Regions from separate parts of the Homo sapiens genome. Here regions 1, 3, 4, 5, 6 and 7 are each linked to region 2. The links come from fine-mapping of genetic effects on gene expression. A gene starts in region 2. Each other region holds a variant in brackets. All regions are shown on one strand. Distances are between the middles of the regions. Region 1 overlaps LOC105375330 (a long non-coding RNA gene). Region 2 holds the start of ZNF117 (zinc finger protein 117). Region 3 holds the start of LOC124901661 (a long non-coding RNA gene). Region 4 has its middle 49 kb from the start of ZNF138. Region 5 overlaps LOC105375330 (a long non-coding RNA gene). Region 6 has its middle 40 kb from the start of ZNF273. Region 7 has its middle 27 kb from the start of ZNF117.

Evidence for each region. PIP is the estimated chance that this variant, and not a neighbour inherited with it, causes the effect.
Region 1: its variant is fine-mapped to the expression of ZNF117 in whole blood (TOPMed, PIP above 0.99). The same link has a PIP of 0.9 or more in blood mononuclear cells and lymphoblastoid cells.
Region 3: its variant is fine-mapped to the expression of ZNF117 in whole blood (TOPMed, PIP above 0.99).
Region 4: its variant is fine-mapped to the expression of ZNF117 in whole blood (INTERVAL, PIP above 0.99).
Region 5: its variant is fine-mapped to the expression of ZNF117 in whole blood (TOPMed, PIP above 0.99).
Region 6: its variant is fine-mapped to the expression of ZNF117 in tibial nerve (GTEx, PIP above 0.99). The same link has a PIP of 0.9 or more in prefrontal cortex and thyroid.
Region 7: its variant is fine-mapped to the expression of ZNF117 in whole blood (INTERVAL, PIP above 0.99).

What each region holds. Positions count from the first base shown.
Region 1 is chr7:65,020,728-65,024,795 of GRCh38, reverse strand. The region is part of intron 3 of LOC105375330 (a long non-coding RNA gene); the gene reads left to right. It also overlaps the pseudogene RNU6-1229P. Among named protein-coding and RNA genes, the nearest start is that of ERV3-1-ZNF117, 16 kb to the right of the region's middle. The variant T/C (reference allele first, on the strand shown) is at 1,784.
Region 2 is chr7:64,988,987-64,993,054 of GRCh38, reverse strand. ZNF117 (zinc finger protein 117) reads left to right here and starts at 2,019. Exons shown (of 4, transcript NM_015852.5): 1 at 2,019-3,108. The region is part of intron 1 of ERV3-1-ZNF117 (ERV3-1-ZNF117 readthrough); the gene reads left to right. ERV3-1 (endogenous retrovirus group 3 member 1, envelope) reads left to right here. Exons shown (of 2, transcript NM_001007253.4): 2 at 1-2,699. The coding sequence starts at 29. The coding sequence ends at 1,843.
Region 3 is chr7:65,248,986-65,253,053 of GRCh38, reverse strand. LOC124901661 (a long non-coding RNA gene) reads left to right here and starts at 638. Exons shown (of 2, transcript XR_007060366.1): 1 at 638-751. RefSeq lists an enhancer at 2,200-2,793. The variant A/C (reference allele first, on the strand shown) is at 1,702.
Region 4 is chr7:64,743,152-64,747,219 of GRCh38, reverse strand. No RefSeq gene overlaps it. Among named protein-coding and RNA genes, the nearest start is that of ZNF138, 49 kb to the left of the region's middle. The variant G/A (reference allele first, on the strand shown) is at 1,816.
Region 5 is chr7:65,014,823-65,018,890 of GRCh38, reverse strand. The region is part of intron 3 of LOC105375330 (a long non-coding RNA gene); the gene reads left to right. Among named protein-coding and RNA genes, the nearest start is that of ERV3-1-ZNF117, 10 kb to the right of the region's middle. The variant T/A (reference allele first, on the strand shown) is at 2,489.
Region 6 is chr7:64,860,855-64,864,922 of GRCh38, reverse strand. It overlaps the pseudogene EEF1DP4. Among named protein-coding and RNA genes, the nearest start is that of ZNF273, 40 kb to the left of the region's middle. The variant C/T (reference allele first, on the strand shown) is at 1,561.
Region 7 is chr7:64,961,958-64,966,025 of GRCh38, reverse strand. No RefSeq gene overlaps it. Among named protein-coding and RNA genes, the nearest start is that of ZNF117, 27 kb to the left of the region's middle. The variant TA/A (reference allele first, on the strand shown) is at 1,861.

The DNA.
Region 1 (4,068 bases), 32 kb before region 2:
CTTTTTCTTTTCTTTTCTTTTTTTTTTTTTTTTTTTTTGAGACAGAGTCTCTTGCTCTGTCGCACAGGCTGGAGTGCAGTGACATGATCTCAGCTCACTGCAACCTCTACCTCCCAGGCTCAAGCAATTCTCCTGACTCAGCCTCCTGAGAAGCTGGGATTGCAGGTGCACACCACTATGCCTGACTAATTTTTTGTATTTTTATTAGAGACCAGGTTTTGCCATGTTGGCCAGGCTGGTCTCGAACTCCTGACCTTGAGTGATCTGTCCCACTTGGCCTCCCAAAGTGCTGGGATTACAGGCATGAGCCACCATGCCTGGCCAATTTTCATAATTTTCTTTACTTCCCACTGTGGTGGGAGAACTGGCTTCAGAGAAAGCCATCCTGGACAGGTAAGGTGGCCCCCCAAGGAACAGGTTTCAATCAAATGTTTTGTAGGCAGTGATGCCCGTGCACCCTGGTGAGAAGGAGCATGGTGTGAACATCAGGAACCAGACTTCACCCTGGAGGAAAGGCCACAGGTGGGGGCTGAAGGAGCAGTTCTTACAAGCGATCCTGTGGGCACTGGGGCCACACCACGCACCTTGGTGCACAAGTGTCAGTGTGGCTCAGAGTGGGGTAGAGGACTCAGGGTATTAAAAGCATCAAGGAATCCAGGGAGAGCCACTGCACCCAACTTTACTTTCACCCACAGGCTTTCATCATGTTGGCCAGACTGGTCTCCAACTTCTGACCTCAAGTGATCCACCTGCCTTGGTCTCCTAAAGTGCTGATTACAGGTGTAAGCCACCATGCCTGGCCAAGATTAGGTCCAATTTTTAAAGTAATCTGGAGCATAGAAAATGTTTCTGCAATTATTAATCTTTTTTTTTTTTTTGAGACAGGGTCTCACTCTGTCACCCAAGCTGGACTGCAGTGTCATGATCATGGCTCACTATAGCCTCACCCTCTTGGGCTTACGCGATCTTCCTGCCTCAGCCTTCCAAGAGCTGGGACTACATGCATGCACCATCGTGCCCAGCTAATTTTTTAGTTCTTATACAGACAGGGGTCTCACTATGTTGCCCAGACTGGTTTTGAACTCTTGGGCTCAAGAGATCCTCCCACCTTGGCTTCCTCAAATGCTGGGATTACAGGCATGAGCCACCACACCTGGCCTCACATATTTTGATATATAAAACACCAAAGATCTTTTTAAGGAGCTAAAGAAACCAGTACTTTTTAAAGAAAAAAGTAGTGGGAATGTCTAGTACAACCAAAACCAGGCATCAAAGTCAGCAGTTAAACATTCCAGGCTGGGCACAGTGGCTCATGCCTGTAATCTCAACACTTTGGGAGGCCCATGCAGGAGGACTGCTTGAGCCCTGGGGGGCAGAGGTTGCAGTGAGCCACGATAATACCACAGTATTCCAGCCTGGAAGACACAGTGAAACCCTGTCTCAAAAACAGATAAACAAACAAATCAATCAATCAATCCAGAACCAGTGCTCACTTCGGCAGCACATATACAAAAATTGGCATGACATGGAGAAGATAAGCATAGTCCCTGTGAAAGGATGACAAACAAATTCATGAAGCATTCCATATTTTAAAAAATATTTCAGAACCAAGAAAATAAATGAATCAAAAGAAAGGGAAGACCTTGGTGATTCCTTTGATATCAGAAAAAATCGGCCGGGCACAGTGGCTCATGCCTGTAATCCCAGCACTTTGGGAGACCAAGGTGGGCAGATCATTTGAGGTCAGGAGTTGGAGACCAGCCTGACCAACATGGTGAAACTC[T/C]GTATCTACTAAAAGTCCAAAAATTAGGCCAGGTGCCGTGGCTCATGCCTGTAATCCTAGCACTTTGGGAGGCCAAGGCGGGCGGATCACTTGAGATCAGGAGTTTGAGACCAGCCTGGCCAACATGGTGAAACCTTGTCTTTAATAAAAATACAAAAATTAGCCGGGTGTGGTGGTGGGCACTTGTAATCCCAGCTACTCAGGAGTCAGAGGCAGGGAGAATCACTTGAACCCAGGAGGTAGAGGTTGCAGTGAGCTGAGATCGCACCATTGCACTCCAGCTGGGGTGACAGGGCAAGACTCCATCTCAAAAAATAAATAAATAAATAAATAAATAAACTACAAAAATTAGCTGGGCATGGTGGCACATGCCTGTAATCCCAGTTACATGGGAGGCTGAAGCAGGAGAATCTCTTGAACCCGGGAGGCGGAGGTTGCAGTGAGCTGAGATCACACCACTGCACTCCAGCCTGTGTGACAGAGCAAGACTCTGTCTAAAAAATTAAATAAATAAATAAAATAAAATAAAATAAAGTTCTCATCTGCAATTCTGAATTTGGCAAGAAGAGTGAACTGTGGCCCAGTGACCGGCACACAGCATTTTAGAGTTCATGGTGTAATCCTTGGGAAACTCTTTTCGCCAAAGTTGTGGCATCTTCTCTGGCCACTCACTTTATTCAAAAGACCTGGCTCAAAATGACTATTTATGGAAATCAACTCTAGCCTCAAAAGACAAAACCACTGTAGTTCTAAAGATATTCAAAAGAATTAAGGTTATTAAAAAGCAATGAAGGGCCAGGCACAATGTCTCATGCCTGTAATCCCAGCACTTTGGGAGGCTGCAGCAGAAGGATCACTTGAGGCCAGGAGTTTGAGACCAGCCTGGGCAACATAGTGAGACCCTGTCTCAACAAAATAATTTTAAAAATTAGCTGGTTGGCCGGGTGTGGTGGCTCACGCCTGTAATCCCAGCACTTTGGGAGGCCGAGGCGGGCGGATCACAAGGTCAGCAGATCGAGACCATCCTGGCTAACATGGTGAAACCCTGTCTCTACTAAAAATACAAAAAATTAGCTGGGCATGGTGGCGGGTGCCTGTAGTCCCAGCTACTCAGGAGGCTGAGACAGGAAAATGGCGTGAACCTGGGAGGCGGAGCTTGCAGTGAGGCAGTGAGCCGAGATCACGCCACTGCACTCCAGCCTGGTCGACAGAGCGAGACTCGGTCTCAAAAAAAAAAAAAAATAGCTCGGCATGGTGGTGTGAGCCTGTTGTCCCAGCTACTCCAGAGGCTGGGATGGGAGCATCACTTGAGGCCAAGAATTGGAGGTTGCAGTGAGCCAGGATTGCACCACTGCTCTCCAGCCTGGGTGACAGAGAGATTTTGTCTCTAAAAATGAAATAAAGGAAGCAAGGAAGGGATTCTCCTCCAAATACTCCCACTTCATTTGGGGCAATTACAAGATTCCAGGAAACATGGAAAACCTATCCTGATTACCTTTTTGGATATATGCTAATGGGAAAACAAATCTCATTAATTAACTCACAGAACAGCTAAGAGAAAAGGATCTTAGGGGACGTGTGGTTTCACTCCTAAGTTTAAACATGAGGAAATGGGTACCAAAGAGATGAAAATAACTCACCAGGTAGAGAGAGAAGAGCCTCTCTTACTACAAGGGGTCTCTCACTGAAAAACCAGCGAAACTCGTTCCTTGCCTGCATTCTCCAAGATCATAGCCCAACATAGAATAGAAATGTCTCCACTTCAGAGGACAACCGGTTTGTCCTTTGCCTTTTACACCCCTTTCAGCAAGGAGTATTTCTCAACTTTGTATTTGTGCAAACCCTTGAGCAGCACAAACTTCTTAGCTAAGAGACACTCCACTCTGTTTGCAATTGAGGGCAAAGGCTGGGATGCTTGGGCACAGCTCCAAGGTCCTTTCCCAGAAGTCTGGGGTGCCTGAAAAAAAAAAGCATTTATTTTTCACACACTGAAGAGACTTGGCTCATCAAGTAGAGGTAAACTTTCTCTGTCTCTCTCTCACTATATATATATTTAAAAAAATTTTTTTTTTTGAGATGGAGTTTCACTCTTGTTGCCCAGGCTGGAGTGCAATGGAGCTATCTTGGCTCACTGCAACCTCCCATTTCCCGGGTTCAAGTGATTCTCCTGCCTCAGCCTTCCAAGTAGCTGGGATTACAGGTGTCCACCACCACGCCCAGCTAATTTTTGTATTTTTATTTATTTATTTTACTGACTTATTTTTATTTTAATTTTTTTCGAGACA
Region 2 (4,068 bases):
TCCCCCCAGGAAAAAGCCTTTTCTGTCCATGCTGGGTATGAACATGCTACTCATCACTTTGTTCTTGCTACTCCCCTTATCCATGTTAAAAGGAGAACCCTGGGAGGGATGCCTCCACTGCACCCACACTACGTGGTCGGGGAACATCATGACTAAAACCCTGTTGTATCACACTTATTATGAGTGTGCTGGGACCTGCCTAGGAACTTGTACTCACAACCAGACAACCTACTCAGTCTGTGACCCAGGAAGGGGCCAGCCTTATGTGTGTTATGACCCTAAGTCTTCACCTGGGACCTGGTTTGAAATTCATGTCGGGTCAAAGGAAGGGGATCTTCTAAACCAAACCAAGGTATTTCCCTCTGGCAAGGATGTCGTATCCTTATACTTTGATGTTTGCCAGATAGTATCCATGGGCTCACTCTTTCCCGTAATCTTCAGTTCCATGGAGTACTATAGTAGCTGCCATAAAAATAGGTATGCACACCCTGCTTGTTCCACCGATTCCCCAGTAACAACTTGCTGGGACTGCACAACGTGGTCCACTAACCAACAATCACTAGGGCCAATTATGCTTACCAAAATACCATTAGAACCAGATTGTAAAACAAGCACTTGCAATTCTGTAAATCTTACCATCTTAGAGCCAGATCAGCCCATATGGACAACAGGTTTAAAAGCACCGCTAGGGGCACGAGTCAGCGGTGAAGAAATTGGCCCAGGAGCCTATGTCTATCTATATATCATAAAGAAAACTCGGACCCGCTCAACCCAACAGTTCCGAGTTTTTGAGTCATTCTATGAGCATGTTAACCAGAAATTGCCTGAGCCCCCTCCCTTGGCCAGTAATTTATTCGCCCAACTGGCTGAAAACATAGCCAGCAGCCTGCACGTTGCTTCATGTTATGTCTGTGGGGGAATGAACATGGGAGACCAATGGCCATGGGAAGCAAGGGAACTAATGCCCCAAGATAATTTCACACTAACCGCCTCTTCCCTCGAACCTGCACCATCAAGTCAGAGCATCTGGTTCTTAAAAACCTCCATTATTGGAAAATTCTGTATTGCTCGCTGGGGAAAGGCCTTTACAGACCCAGTAGGAGAGTTAACTTGCCTAGGACAACAATATTACAACGAGACACTAGGAAAGACTTTATGGAGGGGCAAAAGCAATAATTCTGAATCACCACACCCAAGCCCATTCTCTCGTTTCCCATCTTTAAACCATTCTTGGTACCAACTTGAAGCTCCAAATACCTGGCAGGCACCCTCTGGCCTCTACTGGATCTGTGGGCCACAAGCATATCGACAACTGCCAGCTAAATGGTCAGGGGCCTGTGTACTGGGGACAATTAGGCCGTCCTTCTTCCTAATGCCCCTAAAACAGGGAGAAGCCTTAGGATACCCCATCTATGATGAAACTAAAAGGAAAAGCAAAAGAGGCATAACTATAGGAGATTGGAAGGACAATGAATGGCCTCCTGAAAGAATAATTCAATATTATGGCCCAGCCACCTGGGCAGAAGATGGAATGTGGGGATACCGCACCCCAGTTTACATGCTTAACCGCATTATAAGATTGCAGGCAGTACTAGAAATCATTACCAATGAAACTGCAGGGGCCTTGAATCTGCTTGCCCAGCAAGCCACAAAAATGAGAAATGTCATTTATCAAAATAGACTGGCCTTAGACTACCTCCTAGCCCAGGAAGAGGGAGTATGCGGAAAGTTCAACCTTACTAACTGCTGCCTGGAACTTGATGACGAAGGAAAGGTCATCAAAGAAATAACTGCTAAAATCCAAAAGTTAGCTCACATCCCAGTTCAGACTTGGAAAGGATAGTCTCCAGATTCCCTTTTCAGAGGTTGGTTCTCATCCCTTGGAGGATTTAAAACCTTAGTACAAATAGTCCTAGCCATATTGGGAGTTTGCCTTATACTCCCTTGTCTCTTACCCCTCATTGTCAAAAATATCCAAACAGCCATAGAGGCTCTTGTGGACAGACGGACTACCACACGACTAATGGCCCTAACTAAGTATTAACCCCTGCCAAGAAAAGAGCTACTTCCTCTTGAAGTAAATGAAGATAGTGATGCTTTCTCTTAAACTTTACTTATAAAAAGCATCAAAGGGGGGAATGAAGCAGGAAATATAAAAGGAAAAACAAGTAAAGGGAAAACAAGTCCTTTCCTGACCAGTCTGACTCACTCCAAAGTCCTGCTGGAGCTATGATAATTATCTGCAAGGCCAGGCAGGGGCTCCGAAGGAGTGGGCTCCAGGAGCAGGGATGAGAAAAACAAGTTCTCCTTATCAGTTTCCCTGTTTGAAATTCTCTCCCCATAACATTATTCTTTGTTCTGCTCTCACAACTATTTTTGTAACTATTTCTGCAAGTCTGTAAAGATTTTGTAAGTTCTTGTTTTTCTTTCTGTAGCATGGCAAGGTCACAAGACATGTTTAAGTAAGGTAGGCTCATGTTGCAAATCCTGTTGTAAAACCTGTCACGGTATGATTAACTGCCTTTGTTCTGCTTCTGTAAGACTGCTTTCTCACCTCGCAGGTTTTGCGCCAAAAACCCGACTTGCCCCTGCCTGATGCATGTATAAAAGTCAAGCCCTGTCTTTGTTCAGGGCTCAGCCTTTGGATGTTAATCCGCTGGGCCAGTGGCCACCTAAATAAAACCTTCCTGTTGCACCCAGTGATCTCTCCGGCCTCCTGATTCCCACAACATATAAGCATTCCTTTTTCTCTGCAACCTAGCCCGCATCTGTCATTGACTTTTTAACAATAGGCATTCTGACTGGATGAGATGGTATCTCACTGTGGTTTTTCTCTGCATTTTTCTAATAATTAACAACGTGAATTTTGTTTTCATATGCTTGTCAGCCACATGTATGTCTTCTTTTGAAAAGTATCTGTTCATGTTTTTGCTTACTTTTTAATTAGGTTTTTGGTTTTCTTTTTGTTGTTGTTGTTGTTTTCTGAGATGGAGTCTTGCTGTGTCACCAGGATGGAGTGCAGTGGCATGATCTCGACTCACTGCAACCTCCACCTCCCAGGTTCAGATGATTCTTCTGCTTCAGTCTCCTGAGTAGCTGGGATCACAGGTGCGTGACACAAAACCCAGCTAATTTTTGTATTTTTATTAGAGATGGGGTTTCACCATGTTGGCCAGGATGGTCTGGATCTCTTGACCTCATGATCCATCTGCCTCAGCTTCCCAAAGTGCTGGGATTACAAGCATGAGCCACAGATCCTGGCTTATTCTTCTTCTTCTTTTTTTTTAAAATAAATTTGTTTAAGTTTCTTATGGATGCTAGATTTTAGACCTTTGTCAGAAGCATAGTTTGCAAATATTTTCTTCTAGTCTGTAGGTTGTCTGTTTATTCAGTTGATTGTTTCCATTGCTGCAAAATAGCTCTTTAGTTTAATTAGGTCCCATTTGTCAATTTTTGCTTCTGTTGCAATTGCTTTTGGTATCTTCATCATAAAATCTTTGCCAGTTTTTATGTCTTAGAATTTTCTAGGTTATTTTCTAGATTATTTTCAGGTTTTATATATATATATATATATATATATATATATATATATATATATATATATATATATAATTTTAAGTTCTACATTTAAGTCTTTAATTCATCTTGAATTGATTTTTATATATCATGTAAGAAAGGCATCCAGTTTCAATCTTCTGCATAGTGCTAGCTAGTTATTCCAACCTCATTTATTAAATAGGGAATTCTTCCTGCATTGCTCTTGTAAGCTTTGTTGAAGATCAGATGGTTGCAGGTGTGTGGCATTGTGGCATTATTTATTGGCTATCTATTCTGTTTCTTGTTCTATGAGTCGTTTATATATATGTGTGTGTGTGTGTATATGTGTATATATGTGTGTGTGTGTGTGTATACATTGCCTTGGGTATTCGGGCTCTTTGTTAGTTCTATATGAATTTTAAAATAGTTGTTTTTAGTTCTGTTAAGAATGTTTTTGGTAGTTTGATAGGAATTACATTAGATCTGTAAATTTCTTTTGGCAGTATGGCCATTTTAATGATATTGATCTTT
Region 3 (4,068 bases), 260 kb before region 2:
TTTTTAGTACAGACAGGTTTTCGCCATGTTGCCCAGGCTGGTCTCGAACTCCTGACCTCAAGTGATCCGCCCGCCTCCCAAAGTGCTGGGATTACAGGCGTGAGCCACCGCGCCCGGCTTTATTATCTGTTTTTAAACTCTCAACCTAAACAACAAACAGAGAAAGGCTCTCTCAAAGAAAAGATGTTTATTTGGGAGTAGGGCATTGCAACGGGAATACATGAGATTCACCACTACCTACCGCCCAGGACTGCCGCGCAGCTCAAATAAATTTTTGAAAAGCACCTCTGCACTCCAGACTGGGCGACAGAGCGAGACTCTGTCTCTGTCTCAGAAAAAAAAGAAAAGACAAAGACAAAAAAGAAAACCGCCTCAAAAAATTTTTAAAAAGTGCCTCTCGAGGCCTTGTGCACACGGAGTGACATGACCTGCTGAGGTCAAGGCAAGCTTTCCACCCTCCGTGGCTGGGAAATCTCCTGCCTAGCTTCACGATGAATCAAGGCCAGGGCGCCTCCCACCTCTCGGGAGGAAACCTGACGCCTGACCGCTTAATGGGTGTGTCCACAAGTTGCCACCTAAGGAGGAGGGGAGGGGGAAGCTACGCAGCCTTGATAGCAGCCGGGAACCCTGAGTCCCGGACCCGCACAGCGCAGAGGACCCCAGCAGCGCACTTGTCCCTTTCGCCCTGGCCTTGCCGCGGCGGCGGGGAGAAGAGGGTGGGACGGTCTGACCTCCGCAGCCAATGAAAGCAGTGAGTTCCTGGTCCGATCCCCAGCGCGACTCCTCAGTGGTCACCTCCCGGGCAACGGGCCACGGACCCTCGGCACCCCGAGACAATTGTCAGGCGGAGGGTGAGCCCCGGTTCCTGGGCGGCGGGTGCGGATTGGGATGGGCGCGGAGCCAGGTGGCGTGAGCCTGCAGCCCTCCGTGCTCGGAGTGCGCGCGCCACAGTGGAGCCCGCCGCGTCGCTGACCGGGTGCGCGCTGCTCTTCCTGCTCTGGGTGCGCGGGAAGGGGCTGGGTGTCCGCGCGCCCCTTCCTCCTGCCGCTCTTGGTACCTTCCACATCTACCAACGCCTGTGCGCCGGGTGGTGTGGAAGCGCAGCATCGCCGGTGGGACAGCCAGAAACAGAAGAGCACGCCTGGCGTGGCAGGGGCCCAGAGCCACGGGAACACGGGTGACAGGGACAGCGGGACTTAAGGCAGCAAGGGAGGTGCGGTGCAGGAGGGAGTCAGGACTTCATGGAGAGCTGGCATTGGAGGGCGATTGGAACCAAATAAATTAAAAAAAAAAAAAAAGGTGCGGGGGGAACAGAACAGGCAAAGGCAACAGAGGAGCACAACATTGCCCCGATGTTAGCTGTGTGCAGGGCATGTGCGGGTACCTGGGGCGGATATAAAGAATGCTAAGATAGGCCGGGTGCAGTGGCTCACGCCTGTAATCCCAGCACTTTGGGAGGCCGAGGCGGGCAGATCACGAGGTCAGGAGTTCGAGAGCAGCCTGGCCAACATGGTGAAACCCCGTCTCTACTAAAAATACAAAAATTAGCTGGGAGTGGTAGCGGGCGCCTGTAATCTCAGCTACTCGGTAGGCTGAGGCAGGAGAATCGCTTGAACCCGGGAGGCAGAGGTTGCAGTGAGCCGAGATCACGCCATTGCACTCCAGCCTGTGCGACAGAGCGAGACTCCTTCTCAAAAAAAA[A/C]CACAAAAAACAAAAACAAGAATCTTAACAGAAAGGTGCCCAACAGTCAGGTAACTCACCAGGCCCCAGCGTCTCAGAAGGAGGAAAGGCTTCCGGGAGGCGGAACTGGGCCTAGCGATTGGGAAATGGAGGAAATGATTGGGCGAAGGTGTGTGGGTGGAAGGAATGGTATGAGCAAAGGCCGGGAAAGGAGAAAGCGTAGGGCAGGAGGAGGAGAAGATTCGAAAGCCAGCTTGGAGCTAGGTTGGAGAGGGGCCTTGCTGCCAGGTTTGAGTTTTGAGCAAGGTGCTTCTGTCGGGTTTAGAGGAGAGGACTAAAGTTAAAAGGTGGAACTCAGCCCAGGATCCGGAGGGAAGAGCCTCACCGTCTCTGGTGATGGAGGGTTCACTCCTTGACAGGTGCAGTTGTTCCATGTCCCAGCTGGAGCCTATTCTGCGTCCAGGGCTGGCCTGGTTTTGGGTCCTGGGCTGTTTCTTGGCTCCCGCTGCCCCTCCTTCTGTTCCTTTCTTGCTGGCATCAGGTTGCAGAGAGCTTCTGTTTCCTGCTGCCACCCTTCCATAGGCATAGCAGCCTCTGTATTCTGTGAGCTCCGCTTCGGGTGCTGCAGCAAGAGCCTGAACATGGATGGGGAGAGCCGCTTCTATGAGGGATGAGACCTCGGATCTGGTTGGGGGAAGGCAGAGTCTCGAAGCGCTTTGCCTGCTGCCCTTGGTTCTGCCGGTCACAGTCTTAGCCCCAGTGCCCTGCCTACCCTTTCTCCTCAATTGCATCCTCTTTCCCAGCTATTTCCACGAGTTTAGATTCTCCATTTTTCTTCCTGTCTCCTCCATCAGAGTATGAGCTCTTGGAAATCAGGGACACTTATCTGACTCACCTCTGGCCAATGAGGCCTGGCTCCAAGCAGCCTAGTCAGCACTTCTTAACCTCAACTAAACTGCAGGGTTCACTGTGGGCAGGAAGACAAGAGTCCCAGCTGGACTAGCCACTGCCCTGGACCTGCCATGAGCCATTGATGTCCATTATTTCTAATGCTCACAGCAACCCTGGTAGGTCTTGTGCCGGTTTTACAAATGGGGAAAATTGAGTTTCTGGCTGTGAGTCGTGTGTCCAGGATGGCCTAGCTAGTCAATGGGGCTGGAATCCAGATTACCCTGATTTCAGAGCCAAAATTCTTGACGATTTTTTCCCATCCATTCCCTTCCCTCCTGTAGTTCTGGTCCTGTTGCCTCATCCCTGGCCTGTTGTAATAGCTGTCTGACCAGTTGCCCTTTTTCCAGGTACCTCTCACCTCTCTTTGACCTACACATAGTCCCAAGAGTGGGCTTTCATGGCATTGGCTCCCTGCCTAAAATCTTGGCTGGCTCTAGTCAGGATCCAATCCACCCAGTGCCTCAGGCTTTCTGACTTCTGCATTCACTTCATGTGACTCTCCAGCTTAAATACAGTGCCCCAACTCAGTCCCTCCCACCTCTGGGGTTGTATCAAGTCCTGGGACTGCAGAGATGGGAAGGGAGGCATGTTTGGCCATGGAATTCGACCACTTGTTCCTTCACCCCTTACTCACAAGAATCCCTTCATCAACACCTGCCCCCTCTCAGCTCCCTGGCCTCTTATAGTAGGAAAGCCCTTTTCCATGTGGAGCTGTTTGCCTGGCCAGCTCCAGTGCAATTTTCTCTAGGAGGCCTGACCAGTATTTGACCAGACTTTTGGTTGCAAGTAAAAGAAGCTAAAATCATACTTGCTTGAGCAAGAAGGGATTTTAAAGTCCAGGAGTAAAACTGGATCAGGCATGGCTGGATCCAGGATCCTTCTCTTCCCCATTTCCATCTTTTCATACATCTGCCATTTCTTGTCTCTGCTTTTCTCTAGGTTGACTTCATTCTTTGCAGCCTGTCTTCCTGTAGAGGCCCCAGAAGTTTCCTGGCTTACAGTCAACCAGCTTAGCAACTCCCACAAAGGCAGAGTGCCTTTCCTAGAACCAGTCTTGTTGGCTTGATTTGGGTCATAGGCCTGTCTCTAAACCTGTCTCTGTGGCCAGGAGGATAAAATCATCCTTTAGTCATGTGCCTTCTGGGGCACAGTGAGTAGAATTAGCCTTACCTGAGCCAAAGGAAGACAGGGATTGTTAGAAGTAGATGAAGAGGGGCTGGGCACAGTGGCTCATACCTGTAATCCCAGCACTTTGGGAGGCTGAGGCGGGCAAATCACTTGAGGTCAGGAGCTCAAGACCAGTGTGGCCAACATGGAGAAACCCTGTCTCTACTAAAAATACAAAAATTCACCAGGCGTGGTGGCAAACACCTGTAATCCCAGATACTCGGGAAGCTGAGGAAAGAGAACCTCTTGAACCTGGAAGGCGGAGGTTTC
Region 4 (4,068 bases), 250 kb after region 2:
AAGGGCCTATGTGAAAAATAATTATTCTTGCTGCACTGTATACCAATAATTAGGCCAAGTATAATAAAGCAAACCAGTCCTACCACAATTTATCTTTTAGTAAAACTGAGAAACTGGAGAGAAAGAAGTTATGTTTCAAAAACAATAGTACACCTGTGATTAAATTCTAGTCTTACCTGATGTTTTTCAAATTTTATTGTTTTCTACAGTTTGGATTAAATTCTAATTTTTCTGGCTACAAGTCTCCAAAATAATGTTTTTAACTTTTTGCTTTATATTGTTCTGTTTCCCCATTTTTCCTAATAAGAAATCACTAAAACCCAAGCTGTGCTTTCTTAAAGCCCTGTGAACTAAAGACTAGATGACTTAAACTTCAGAAGAGCAGCAACCTATTTATGCGTGCTTCTGTTGCATACTATTATGTTTCAGAAGGTGCTGCCTCTAAGCCCCCAAAACAGAGAGTGCTATAGGAAACAAATTGACCTCTTCCACTCCAGCGCTGCATTCAGTGCCCCATAACAATGACCCCCTCTCTGCAGGAAGTATCCAGAAGGATTATGACCCCCTCATCTCCCTCCAATTCTTGTGATAAATAAATACACAAGCAAGACAGAAATCATGCATGAATTGACAGTAGGGATTGTGGCAGTCCAGCTCTTACTAATAGAGGCCTCCAAAACAACTGTTTCAGTACTGACTGAGTGGTTCAGTTAAATATTAAAAAATAGTGCCCTGGCTGGGCATGGTGGCTCACACCTGTAATCCCAGCACTTCGGGAGACTGAGGCAGGTGGATCACCTGAGGTTGGGAGTTCGAGACCAGCCTCACCATCATGCAGAAACCCCATCTCTACTAAAAATACAAAATTAGCCAGGCGTGGTGGTGCATGCCTGTAGTCCCAGCTACTCGGGAGGCTGAGGCAGGAGAATCGCTTGATCCTGGGAGGCAGAGGTTGCAGTGAGCAGAGATCATACCATTGCACTCCAGCCTGGGCAACAAGAGTGAACCTCAGCACCCCCACACCCCCCCCCCCACAAAAAAAAACCAGTGCCCTTATACAAAGGCTGGAATGTAACAAAAGCCCACGAAGAGTTTTCCCTAGGCCTTTCCTGGGCCTTACAGCATGACAAAATAATGAAGGAATTCTTAACAGGACCTATGTAGAATTAAATGAGCTTTTTTGTGGGTCTGAAGAAACCCCCAGGCCTCCACAAACAAGTTTACTGGGGGTCTGAAGGAACTACCCTAACCTCCGTGATTCAGCAGGAGACAAGATAAGGGTAATCACCTCAGCACCTGGACCCATTTAGATTAAGTAAATTTACTGAGGTTCCAGAGGAAAGTCTTCAGGACTCAGACATTAGTTATATTAGTGTTAATTTTCCAATGCTTCTGTATTACAATAAATACTTGCTTTACTGAAAGTAGAAATAATCTAGAACAAAAAGTAACAACCATCTCTAAATTGTTAAATTTATGTGAATATTTTGGAGTTGATGTTTTGTGACCTCTTCCTTGACATCCTAGCAAAGATATTTCTGTAAAAGTATATTTCACAAATACACTTTCAAATACAAATTAGTACTATCCATGTTTTGGTTACTTTTGCTTTGCGCTTCCACCTCCATATTATTTTTGATAACAAAGCACAGCAACATGATTTTTCTTTTTTTTCTGAGATGGAGTCTCACCCTGTCGCCCAGACTGGAGTGCAGTGGTGCAATCTCAGCTCACTGCAACCTCTGCCTCCCAGGTTCAAACAATTCTCTTGCCTCAGCCTCCCAAGTAGCTGGGACTACAGGTGTCTGCCACCAC[G/A]CCTGGCTAATTTTTTATATTTTGATAGAGACAGGGTTTCATCATGTTGGCCAGGCTGGTCTTGAACTCCTGACCTTGTGATCCACCCACCTTAGCCTCCCAAAGTGCTGGAATTACAGGCGTGATCCACCGCAGCTGGCCTGCAACATGATTTTTCTAAAGCAGGCCTCATGAATTTCGCCTGGATGTTAACACATTAAAAGGAGGTGAATGCAATTAAAAGGTGTTTAATACATTCCACCAGAAAGGAGAGGCACAGCTGGCCATGCTGGGCCTCACAAAGGCTGTCTCATGCACAGATTGGAAAGCAGAGGTATCAGGGAACTGGGACTTTGTCTTTATGACCATGATGATTGTAAGCAACCAAGCAAGGCTGTCCCTTTGGACACAAAGTAAAATCTTGCATGTTGGGGTCTGTGGTTGGGAAGATGATAATATTTGCATGCTAATAAAAGCTGCCTGAAAAGGAACATGTAAACAACAGTGATTGCTTATCTGCCCCTGTGACTCAGCAGGCTTATGAAACAGTTATAAATAGCAGCTGTCAAATGGCCAACACAATCTAACAACATTTTCAATATAATTTATTACTAGTGGAAATCCTGAATTAATTTATTATTATTTTTGAGATAGAGTCTCGCTCTGTCACCCAGGCTGGAGTTCAGTGGCATGATCTCGGCTCTCTGCAACCTCCGCTTCCCGGGTTTAAGCAATTCTCCTCTCTCAGCCTCCTGAGGAGCTGGGACTACAGGCGCACACCACCACGCCCAGCTAATTTTTGTATTTTCAGTAGAGACAGGGTTTCACCATATTGGTCAGGCTAGTCTTGAACTCCTGACCTATGGTGATCCACCCACCTTGGCCTCCCAAAGTGCTAGGATTACAGGCATGAGCCACCACACCCGGCCCTGAATTCTTTAATTTCTGCAGTTTCCGTTACTTCTTAAGATGCTTTAAATGAATAAAATCTGCCTTAAATGTTGATACCTGATAACTTCTCTCTGGAGGATTTTGAATTGGCCAACTTAATCAAAACTCCAGCTCTTGCCATCTAAGTGCAATTAAATGGAATATTTAAGATTCCTAAGGGGTCAACTATTACACTTTCAACTTCTTTTTAACGATATATTATTTTCCAAAAATTCTTATGACCATTTGAATAGTTTAGCTTTTGCTCCTCTCTTGTGAGCAACAGGATTATATATATTTGGTAAAATGTAATACAGAAAACTTAAAAATTATACTGGACAACCATCAGTAAAATGTATATATCTGGTATAAACAACCTTTTTCCGCAAATTGAATTCTGCATTTTTCTCTTTTCTGATATATATGAGATGCACAAGTATGTTTTTCTCCTGTATGGGCATAAAGAGGTGATTGTCATTTGTATTATCTGCTAAAAGCTTGTGGCAGCTCATGGTATTATTGACCACATGTTCTAATGTCTTTTTGCAGATTTAAATATTATATTGTAGTGTCAATTTAACATTTAGATGTGGGTTAAATCTCTAGATATATTGTAATTAGATTGATTTTTTTTTTTTGAGACAGAGTCTCCCTCCATTGCCCAGGCTGGTGTGCAATGGGGTGATCTTGGCTCACTGCAACCTCCACCTCCAAAGTTCAAATGATTCTCCTGCCTCAGCCTCTCAAGTAGCTGCGATTACAGGCACCTGCCACCACACCCAGGTGTGTGTGTGTGTGTGTGTATTTTTAGTAGAGATGGGGTTTTGCCATGTTGGCCAGCCTGTTCTCAAACTCCTGACCTCAGGTGATCCACCCACCTTGGCCTTCCAAAGTGCTGGGATTATAGGTGTGAGCCACCATGCCTGGCGTAATTAAATTGATTTTTTTGTAATGGTGATTGTCCTGGTAAATCAATATAAAATAAAAATTATACACCTTTAAAAGATAGTTATTTACAATTGCTTAGAGTTTACCTGGTCAGCCGAGGCCTATCTTCTTCAAGACTTTGCTGAAATTGCACCTGCTCAGTTACAGTCTCTCTGTACAGTCAGAAAAATAATCCTGACTGAGAATGGCTAAGAAAAGAATGAAAAAATTTTGGCAGAGGAATCCTACATGTAAAGAAACAGTTGTGGAAAAGAAAATAATGTTCAGAGATGTGTTTTACTGCAGTTATTTTTTATTTTCATTTTATTTATTTATTTATTTTTTGAGACTGAGTCTTTCTCTGTCACTCAGGCTGGAGTGCAGTGGTGCTATCTTGGCTCACTGCAACCTCTACCT
Region 5 (4,068 bases), 26 kb before region 2:
GAGCGAAAGTAAGACTTTTAACGATGGTCTTGCAGGATCGGGTGTCTGATAGGCAGGCACACTCAGAACAGTTTCAACAAGCAATTTATCCTCTTGTGTGCAGGTCCCTCCCATTTCCTTATACATAGGCTGAGTACTATGGGGTCACAATCTTCCTGGATGTCACCTATTGGTTGTTGGGTAGGAGCTTTAGGTGGTTTTTTTTGTTTGTTTTTTTAAGATGGAGTCTTGCTCTGTCATACAGGTGGGAGTGCAGTGGCGCAATCTCGGCTCACTGCAACCTCCGCCTCCCAGGTTTATGCCATTCTCCTGCCTCAGCCTCCTGAGTAGCTTGTATTACATGTGTCCGCCACCACGCCCAGCTATTTTTTTGTGTGTGTTTTTAGTAGATACGGGGTTTCACCGTGTTAGCCAGGATGGTCTTGATCTCCTGACCTCATGATCCACCCACCTCGGCCCCCCATAGTGCTGGGATTGCAGGTGTGAGTCACCATGCCGAGCCGTGTATACCCTGTTTCTTCTGTAGTTTGCTGACCTAATCTGATTTAAGGCACTTTGTCTTGGAAATGGACCACTGTATACATTATTTCCTTTACCCAGATAACTTTAAATTTTTTTTGTAGAGATGGGGGTCTCACTCTGATGCCCAGGGTTGTCTTGAACTCTTGGCCTCAAGTGATCCTCCTGCCTCAGCTTCCCAAAGTGCTTGGATTACAGGCAGGAACCACATGTTCAGCCATCTTTTTTTAAAAAAGAGAGTTTAAAGGACTCCAACTAGGAACTAATGCAGTAATCTGGGCCAGATATGATTCTAGCTGGGTTGAAATAATGACCAAGATAAAAAGGAGGAAGACGGGAAAGGCTGGGAGGGGCACAACCAACGGGACTTGTAAGTAAGCAGATCTGGTGACAAAAGTCAGGGAAAACAAAAGAAGACTCCCAGGTCTCCAGGTGACAAGGCCAGACCTGGTATATGGTAGTGCCATATACCGTATATACCATATATACTGCCATATACCAGACGGAGAGGGGAGTGCACACCACCACACAGCTGGCCCACACACTCTGGCTGCAAAAGGCCAGGAATCGCATGCTCTCCAGCTTGCGGCCTGAATTTGGACAACTCACTCACTCTCACTGCCTGTCTTCACAATTTCAAAATGAAGTTAAAAAAAAAACCCTTCTCTAACTTGTTTTGCTTTTTTCTGAGACGGAGTCTCGCTCTATCACCTAGGCTGGAGTACAGTGGTGCGATCTCGGCTAACTGCAACCTCTGACCCCAGGGTTCCGGCGATTTTCCTGCCTCAGCCTCCAGAGTATCTGGGATTACAGGCCTGCCACCATGCCCGGCTAATTTTTTTGTATTTTTTTTAGTAAAGATGGGGTTTCGCCATGTTGGCCAGGTTGGTCTCTGACTGCTGACCTCAGATGATCCACCCTCAGCCTCCCAAAGTGTTAGGATTGCAGGTGTGAGCCACTGTGCCCGGCCGGCCTCCAGCTTGTTTTAAGAATCCAGTAACATCACTATGTTTAACAATTGGCTTAGATATTCAGAAGCTGCTGATGTGAATGTTTAATGAATTCTATGAGTAAAGAAATTAGATCAAAGTAAGTGGATTCCATGTAGCCGAGAATGATGTCTTCTGGATATTCCACCTGGTAACCCCTCCTTCAGCGCACTATGCCCCTTGACAAACACCATGGGGAGCAGGGACAGAGGAGGTGGGTGGGGAGCACAGGGACACAGGCACTGACATCCGCCTCTGCATTGCCCCCGTCCCGTTCATCCCTTTCTATAATACAATCATTTAACAATTGTTTCCCATGTGTAAAATATTTGCTTCATTCAATCACAGAACAGATACTTGATGTTCAAATTTACTGAGGAAGAAACTGTTCACTTGCCAAATAGGAACTTAAAAAAATCAACAACCCTTAATTAGCTGTATCATTGAAGTAAAACCAATGTGAGGGATTTAGTGTTTAGTCAGGCAAGCCTGGTTGGCTTCTTGGCTTCCTGTCTTCCCCATTTGTTCCTCCTTCTCAAAGTGTGGATTTCATTTTCAAACTGGGGAAAAGAGGGGTTCAAGGTGGGAGGCGGAGGCAGGAGGATGGCTTTAGATCAGGAGTTCAAGACCAGCCTGGTCAATATAGTGAGACCTTGTCTCCAGAAATTTTTTTTTTTTTTTTTTTACTTAGCTGGGTGTGGCTGTATGCCTGTGGTCCCAGCTTCTCAGGAGGGTGAGGCAGGAGGATCACTTTAGCCCAGGAATTTGAAGCTGCAGTGAGCTGTAATCATGCCACTGCACTCCAGCCTGCGTGACAGAGCAAGACCCTGTCTAAAAACAACAACAAAAAAGGGCCAGACTCAGTGGCTCACACCTGTAATCCCAGCACTTTGGGAGGCTGAGGCAGGAGGATCTCTTGAGGCCAGGAATTCGAGACCAGCCTGGGCAACATAGTGATACCCTGTCTCTATATTTTTTTT[T/A]AAAAAAAGAGGTGTTTGGGAACTTCCAGTATGTAGACGTCCACTGCTGAAGGGCTGTTTTGTGTCATAACCAAGACACATGGCCTGAGAGCCTGTGATGATTATTTGTGTTTGTGCAAACTCCAGAGCAGCCCAAGCTCCTAGACTAAGAGACACTCCACCCTGTTTGTAACAGTCTTGAGCAGACATATGAGGAGACAGAGGTCATTGTCTCCAGCATCAAAGGAATGAAACAAGATGTTGATTTTAGAGCCAACACTTTCCCAAGAAGCCTCCACAGTGTGACCTCACAGGGCCTCTACCGGCACTGAGTGTCAGAATTAAGGCATCTGAGGCTGGGCCACATTCTAGTAGAGGCCCCACTCAAAACGTGGCCTGGGGTGATCAAAAGATGTTGATGTGGCAGCTCCTCACCAGATGTCCTGCTCCAACTCTTGCCCTTCCATGTCCAGTCTCTTGACAAGAGCTGAAATGTTCTTTTTAGTGTTTTTGTTTTGTTTTTTCTTTGAGATGGAGTCTTGCTCTGTTGCCCAGGCTGGAGTGCAGTGGCATGATCTCTGCTCACTGCAACCTCTGCCTCCCGGGTTCAAGCAATTCTTGTGCCTCAGCCTCCTGAGTAGCTGGGATTACAGGTGCCTGCCACCATGCCCGGCTAATTTTTGTATTTTTTAGTAGAGACAGGGTTTCACCATGTTGGCCAGGCTGGTCTTGAACTCCTGACCTCAGGTAATCCACCCACTTCAGCCTTTCAAAGTGCTGGGATTACAGGTGTGAGCCACCGCGCCTGGCCTTTTTTTTGTTTTTGTTTATTTCAGAGATAAGGTCTAACTCTGTTGCTCAGGCTGGAGTACAGTGGGGCAATCATGGCTCACTGCAGCCTCTATCTCCTGGGCTCAAGTGATCCTCCCACCTCAGCCTCTGGAGGAGCTGGGACTACAGGCATGTGCCACCACATCTGGTTAATTTTTTTTTCAAGATGGAGTTTCACTCTTGTTGTCTAGGCTGGAGTGCAATGGCCTGATATCAGCTCACTGCAAACTCTGCCTCCCGGGTTCAAGTGATTCTTGTGCCTCGGCCTCCTGAGTAGCTGGGATTACAGGTGCCTGCCACCATGCCCAGCTAATTTTTGTATTTTTAGTAGAGATGACGTTTCACCATGCTGGCCAGGCTGGTCTCGAACTCCTGACCTCAGGTGATCTGCCCCCCTCAGCCTCCCAAAGTGCTGGGAATACAGACATGAGCCACTGCACCTGGCACACCTGGTTTATTTTTTAAAAGTTATTTTTGGCCAGGTGAGGTGGCTCATGCCTGTAATCCCAGCACTTTGGGAGGCCAAGACAGGTGGATCAGATGAGGTCGGGAGTTCCAGACCAGCCTGACCAACATGGAGAAACCCCATCTCTACTAAAAATACAAAATTAGCCAGGTGTGGTGGTGCATGCCTGTAGTACCAGCTATTTGGGAGGCTGAGGCAGGAGAATTGCTTGAACCTGGGAGGCAGAGGTTGGTGAACTGAGATCATGCCACTGCACTCCAGCCTGGGCAACGAGAGCGAAATTCTATCTCAAAAAAAAAAAAAA
Region 6 (4,068 bases), 130 kb after region 2:
TTTTAAGTAATTTATTTTTTTATTTTAAGGAATTAATTTTGTTATTTTTCTCTTTTTGGAACACTGCACATTTGAATTCAAGCACTTATATCTGGTTTTCACTTGATTTTAGCCAAAAGGCTGAGAAGTAATTATGTCTGCTTTTCAATTTTAGAAACTTATGAGTCACCAACTCTGAATACTGACTTTGATTTTGAAAATATATTCTATAAAAATAATCAGACTTGTTTTACTCCATCTCATGCTCCCTGTCATACATGTATATTTTAGATTTTGTTAATATAACTTTTCTCCTTTTGTCTTTACAGTAATTAATTACTGCTTAGTGTTCTAGTTCACTAATCTTCTCATCATTTCAGACTAATTTAATGTTTCACACATATGTTGTATATTAAGTAGACTGATTATATTTTCAATTGTTTACTTCACATTTGGCTGTTTTTTCTTTTCTTTTCTTTTTTTTTTTTTTTTTGCCGGTCTCAGTTTTTAATCATGGCGGGGCCTCAAGCACATGCACGCGTGCACACACACACACACACTCACACTCAGTCTTCAGATCTTGTTGAAAGCTGCAATGTCAACATTCTGCACGTGTTCTTCAAACTTGATGATCTCCTCCTCCAGCAAGTCTGTCCCCACCTTGTCATCCTCCACTACACACTGAACCAGCAGCTTCTGGATACTATAGCCCACGGGCACCAGCTTAGAGGCCCCCCCAGACCAGCCTGTCCAGCTGGATGGAGCACATACAGGCCTCCAGCTGGGCCATGTTAGTCTCATCATCCCAAGGCTTAATGTCCAGCAGGATGGACGACTCGGCCACCAGCATGGGCTTCTTGGCCTTTTTCTCTGTGTACTGCCGCAGCCGCTCCTCCCGCAGCAGTACTGCCTCCTGTCCTCCTCCTCATTGTCACTGCCAAACAGGTCAATGCCAAGACCAGCTTGGTTGGGGAGACCCTAACCCAGTGGCGCTAGAGGAATTAAAGACACACACACAGAAATATAGTGTGTGGAGTGGGAAATCAGGGGACTCACAGCCTTCAGAGCTGTGAACCTCAAACAGAGTTTTGCCCACATATTTATTGACAGCAAGCCAGTGATAAGCATTGTTTCTATAGATCATAGATTAACTAAAACAGGAAACAAAGCGATGGGCTGAAACAAAGGGATGGGCTCTGGCTAGTTATCTGCAGCAGGAACATGTCCTTAAGGCACAGGTCGCTCATGTTATTGTTTGTAGTTCAGGAACACCTTTAAGTGGATTTCCCACCCTGGGTGGGCCAGGTGTTTCTTGTCCTCATTCCGGTAAACCCACAACTGTCAGCATGGCTGTCATGCCCATCACTAACATGTCACAGTAGTGCAGAGATTTTGTTTATGGCCAGTTTTGGGGCCAATTTATGGCCAGATTTGGGGGCCTATCCCCTGTAGGTCAATGTCATCGTCCTTGTCATCCTCTGCTGGTTTGGCTGGCTTCTTGGCCAGGGGCTCCACTTGGCACATAGGAGACTCGTGCTGGGTCTGCAGGGCTGTGGTGGCCAGGCAAGCTCTTCTCCAGCA[C/T]GTTCAGTGGGGCCTCCAGCTTGGAGATGGCCTGCTGCAGCTCCTGCACAACCCTGCGCAGGCTCTGGTTCTCCACTTCCAGACTGGTGATCTGAAAGATGAGCTCAGCCTTGTCTCCGCTGGGGCTGCTGGAGGCCCCGGGGCCTGAGCTTCTGGCCAGGGATTTCTGGAAATGCTCTCTGGCTCTCGCAATGTCATGGAGGATCATGCTGGCGCCGTTCTCCTGGCGGGAGGTGCTGGCCACAGCCTTGTTCATCTGCTTGAAGAATCTCCTTTCTGCATTGTCACATTTTAACTTGTTGAACCAGATCTTCTCATGTACTAGGAAGTTTGTAGCCACTTTTCTGATGCCAGCCAAGGACGCAGTGACCAGGAAGGAGGAATCAGCAGATGCGGGACGCCTGAGGAAAGGCTGGCTGTTTTTCAAATATGGCTTGTTGCTGGGTGTGGTGGCTCACACCTGTAATCCTAGCACTTTGGGAGGCCGAGGCGGGTGGATCACCCGAGGTCGGGAGTTGGAGACCAGCCTGACCAACATGGAGAAACCCCGTCTCTACTAAAAATACAAAATTAGCTGGGCATGGTGGTGGGTGCCTGTATTCCCAGCTACTTGGGAGGCTGAGTCAGGAGAATCACTTGAACCCAGGAGGCAGAGGTTGTGGTGAGCCAAGGTCATGCCATTGCACTCCAGCCTGGGCGACAAGAGTGAAACTCTGTCTCAAAAAACAAAAAAACAAAACAAAACAAAAAAACCCCCACATGCACAAAAAACAAACAAATATGACTTGTCACCCTTGTAGCTTCTTGTACTTTTCACATTATTGGTATATTTTCTGTTTTCCCCATTGTGTTGGATTAAACATTTTAAACCTAAGTCCTGTAACTGTGGGTAATATAAGTTGTAATTTGTTTCTCGCTTGTGAAAGATATTACGTTTGCAATGTCTGCAGTTAGTTTATGTTGTTACTTTTATTTTTATTTTTGTAGAAAAGGATTTTTATTTTTTTTTAGGGTGATTTTTAAAAGTTCTAGGGTACATGTGCACAATGTGCCGATTTGTTACATATGTATACATGTGCCATGTTGGCGTGCTGCACCCATTAACTCGTCATTTACATTAGGTATTTCTCCTAATGCTATCCCTCCTCCCTTATGTTGTTATTTTTTCATTTGTCTAATGGCAAGTTGGACAACCCACAGAAATTTTTTATTTGTGTGTTCACCCATATCTAAGAAGAACAATTGCTTCTTAGTTTAATTACATTCTGGATTCTTCCTTTGGCTTTCTTTTGTACCTGGAAAGTTCTCATATGTTTCTTTATATTCTACTCAGGATTTTAAAGGTTCTTGTAACTTTCTCAGAATTTTAGCATGTAAATTATTTTTATATTTAAAGATTTCCAAATATATAATATCTTTCCAAAATGCACAAATATCAACAGCATATACCTGAGGAAAATATTTTACAATTTTCTTGTGTGGCAGACAATAACATCTTATGAGAAATCTCAAGTTACATCAGTTAGAACATATTCTTTCCTCAATATACCAAAAAAAATTTTTTTTTTTTTGAGATGGAGTCTCACTCTGTCACCCAGGCTGGAGTGCAGTGGAGCGATCTCGGCTCACTGCAAGCTCTGGCTCCCGGGTTCACGCCATTCTCCTGCCTCAGTTTCCCAAGTAGCTGGGACTACAGGCGCCCGCCACCACACCCGGCTAATTTTTTTTTTTTTTTTTTTTTAGTAGAGATGGGGTTTCACCATGTTAGCCAGGATGGTCTTGATCTCCTGACCTCATGATCCTCCCGCCTCGCCTCGCAAAGTGCTGGGATTACAGGCAGAGCCAGCACGCCTGGCCAGTATACCTTAATTTTTAATACTAAAAAATCGATTTTATATTTTTACAAATATCTGAAGTAAATGTACTTAACTGTAGAGACTAATACCTACATATGGCCAGAATACTGTTTTTCTGTATCAGTAAGACAATGGCAAAATTACTGATCTAAATTCAAGTTTTTGGCTTTGATCACCATGCTTCTCCATTAGCACATTTCTTTTGTTTCTTCTTCCTCTTCTTTTTTTTTGAGACAGAGTTTCGCTCTTGTTGCCCAGGCTGGAGAGCAATGATGTGATCTCAGCTCACCACAACCCCTGCCTCCCAAGTTCAAGCGATTCTCCTGCCTCTGCCTCCCGAGTAGCTGAGATTACAGGCATGCGCCACCACGCCCTGCTAATTTTGTATTTTTAGTAGAGATGGGATTTCTCTATGTTGGTCAGGCTGGTCTGGAACTCCTTACCTCAGGTGATCCACCCACCTCGGCCTCCCAAAGTGCTGGGATTATAGGCATGACCCACTGCACCCAGCCAGCACTGTTCTGAATCAATAAAAATGATCTCAGCTTAAATCTTCCATTTGATTAAGAACTTAATTTAAAATTTTTATTTTTGAGGCACCGTCTAAACTTCTGGGCTCAAGTAATTTTTCTGCATTGGCCTCCCACAGTGC
Region 7 (4,068 bases), 27 kb after region 2:
CATTAAAGAGATTAAATCAAAATGACAATGTGATACCATCTCACACCAGTTAAAATGGCTGTTATTAAAAAGTAAAAAAAAAAATAGCATGTTGTGGAGAATAGGGAATGTTTACACAGTCTTTGTGAGAATGCAAATTAATTCAGCCTTTTGTTGATTAATTCAGCCTCTTGTTGGAGCCTCTACTTCAACAAAAGATGCCATGAATTTCAAGTTATTATGCTGACACATATATTGTCTCTAGAAGGGTTCTGGTTTTTTTGCAATCAAGGTGTAGCATTTCTGGCTTCCCTTGTGCTGCTTTGTTTGTGTGAAATAGGAAGGTAGGAAGTAAAACCAAGTAAACCATGACATTTCTATTTTCTACAGCCACAGCATCTGAATTCTAGTGTTATGTCAACTAGAAATAATGTCAGTATTTCAAAACTGACAAAAAGAAATTGATACTTTATCTTTTTAAATGTTTTTATAGATTATAAAAATTTATAGTTTCTGAATTATATAAGTTAAACAACCTGAACATGCAGATACCTAAAAGTTTTACCTAGATAATAGTATTAATATTTTAATAGGTTATGATTGTGAGTCACAGTTGCCCCATTGAGTTTACTGGAAAGCGGTTATTTATCTTCTGAGTGTATGTAGAGAATAGGCTTTCATAATCCTAAACAAAGAGATCTTTTAAGATTAGCACTATATTTAGATTTGAATAAAATTCATAGGCTTGTAGTAACAGAAATTTTAATATATTTTCTAATAGAAAAAAGTCAATCGAAATAAGTTATTCAGATGAGTTTTAAAAAACTTCACGTGTTCATTAAATAACATTTAAAATTACATTGTAAGTGACTGATTTGTAATTCCAATCTATTTCATTTTAGTCACTGAGAAAACAATATCCTTAAATTATTCAATCAGAAAAAGTATTCTTATATTAGTGTTTCTGAAACTTTCAGAAACTGTAGACCACTCAGTGGATGGGGAGGCATATGCAGACCACAAATTTTCTATGTAATAATAGGTTCATCTTAGCTTTAATATAAAAATTAAATATATTTCAAAAGTAAAATTAGTGGCTTTTTTAAGTCATGAGAGACATATTATTGTTAGAACCCATTTGCCAAATTATTTGTGTTAGGCTTAGTAATAAGTGCTTTCAACCAAAAATCAAGTTCTACATACTATCTCAGGGTAAAAAGAAAGTGGTTTTTATCTTATTTATTTTTACCAATAAAATATTTTTATTTTTAAACTGTTATTTTAGATTTAGAGGGGGTACACCTAGCCTTTCTAGACTTCCTTAGTAATTGGTAAATTTCTCTTTTTATTTTGTCATTATTACTTTTTCTGCACTCAGGCTGGAGTGCAATGGCGCAAACATTGCTCATTGCAGCCTTGAACTTCTGGGCTTAACATATTCTCCCTCCTCAGCCTCCCGAATAGCTGAGACCACAAGCACAAGCCTGTGTGCCCAGCCCATTATTATTACTTTTAATGTCTGCTAGTTCCTGGGGTGCACAGAGATTTAAAGGTCACATTCTTCCAGGGTTTGGGCATAACATGAGCACTGGAATTAAATAGGTAGGTCCCACAGGGAAGGCAGTGCCCAGGAGAATAGAATCTAGGTGTGGGTGTGACCACTCTCCTTCTCAACTTGGCTCTTTCTTCTTGTTTGAAGAGACAGAGTAATACTGGGAGGCAAAAAAGGACCATTGGCTTGGGGTCAGAGGGTGTGATTTGAGGTCTGGAGTTGATCTCTTAAAGGCTATGTGAAGTTGGCACTGTCTCCAACCTTTCTCCTGCAAAATGAGAAAACAAGGCTGGATGAACTGAGTTCGCTTTCAGTCTTTTTTTTTTTTT[TA/A]AGTTTTTTATTTCCATAAATTTTGTTTAACAGGTGGTATTTGGTTACATGAGTAAATTCTTTAGTGGTGATTTCTGAGATTTTGGTGCACCCATCACCTGAGTAGTATACACTGAACCCAATTTGTAGTCTTTTACCTGATGCCTTTACATCCTTATAGTTTAGCTCCCAATTATGAGTGAGAACATACAATGTTTGATTTTCCATTTCTGAGTAGTATTCAATTATATATATACATACATATATATATATATACACATACATATATATATATATATATGTATATATATCCACAGTTTCTTTATCCACTTGTTGATTGATGGGCATTTGAGTTGTTTCCACATTTTTGCAATTCCAAATTATGCTGCTATAAACATGCGTGTGCAAGTTTTTTTTTTTTTTTTTAAATAATAACTTCTTTTCCTCTGGGTAGATACCCAATAGTAGGACTGCTGGATCAAATGGTAGTTCTCCCTTTAGTTCTTTAAGGAATCTCCACACTGTTTTCCATAGTGGTTGTACTAGTTTACATTCCCACTAGCAGTGTAGAAGTGTTTCCTTTTCACTCCATCCACACCAACATTTATTATTTTTTTATTTTTTTATTATGGCCATTCTTACAGGAGCAAGGTGGTATCACGTTATGGTTTTGATTTGCATTTCCCTGATCATTAGTGATGTTGAGCATTTTTTCATGTGTTTCCTGGCCATTTTTATATCTTCTTTTGAGAATTGTCTATTTATGTCCTTAGCCCACTTTTTGACGAGATTTTTTTTTTCTGGCTAATTTGTTTCAGTTTGTTGCAGATTCTGGACATTAGTCCTGTGTCAGATATATAAATTGTGAAGATTTTCTCCCGCTCTGTGGGTTGTTGTTTACTTTGCTCACTTCCTTTGGCCATGCAAAAGCTCTTTAGTTTAATTAAGTCCCAGCTATTTATCTGTGTCTTCATTGCATTTGCTTTGGGGTTCTCGGTCATGAAATCCTTGACTAAGCCAATGTTTAGAAGGGTTCTTCTGATGTTATCTTCTAGAATTTTTATAGTTTCAGGTCTTAGATTTAAGTCCTTGATCCATCTTGAGTTGATTTTTGTATAAGGTGAGAGATGAGATCAAGTTTCATTCTTCTACATGTGGCTTGCCAAGTATCCCAGCACCATTTGTTGAATAGGGTGTCCTTTACCCACTTTATGTTTTGGTTTGCTTTGTCAAAGATCAGTTGGGTGTAACTATTTGTGTTTATTTCTGGGTTCTCCATTCTGTTCTGTTTGTCTATGTCCCTATTTTTATACCGGTACCATGCTGTTTTGGTGAGTGTGGCCTTATTGTGTTGTTTGAAGTTGGGTAATACGAAGCCTTTTGATTTGTTTCTTTTGCTTAGTCTTGCTTTGGCTATGCAAGCTTTTTTTTTGGTTCCATATGAATTTTAGGATTGTTTTTTCATAGTTATTTGAAGAATAATGTCAGTACTCTGATGGGAATTGTATTGAATTTGTAGATTGCTTTTGGCAGTATGGTCATTTTTAGAGTATTGATTCTACCCATCTATGAGCATGGGATGTGTTTTTATTTGTGTCATCTATTGCTTTCAGCAGCATTTTGTAGTTTTTCTTGTAGAGGTCTTTCACTTCCTTGGTTAGGTATATTCCTAAGTATTTTATTTTTTGTGCAGCTATTGTAGAAGGGGTTGAGTTCTTAATTTGATTCTCAGCGTGGTCGCTTTTGGTATATAGCAAAGCTACTAATATGTGCACATGGATTTTGTATTCTGAAACTTTGCTTAATTTATTTATTGGTTCTAGGAGCTTTTTGAAGGAGGCTTTAGTGTTTTCTGGGTATACAATTATATCATAAGGAAACAATTAGTTTCAGCTCCTCTTTAGTGATTTGGATGCCCTTTATTTCTTTCTCTTGTCTGATCATTCTGGCTAGGATGTCCAGTACTATGTTGAATAGAAGTGGTGAGAGTAAGCATTTTTGTCTTGTTCCAGTTCTCAGAGGAAATGCTTTCAACTTTTCCCCATTTAGTATTATGTTGGCAGTAGGTTTGTCATAGATGCCTTTTATTATATTAAGGTATGTCCTTGGTAGGCCAGTTTTGCTGATGGTTTAAATCATAAAGTGATGCTGGATTTTGTCAAATGCTTTTCTCCATCTATTGAAATACTTATGTAATTTTTTAAAAAAATTCTGTTTATGTGGTGTAT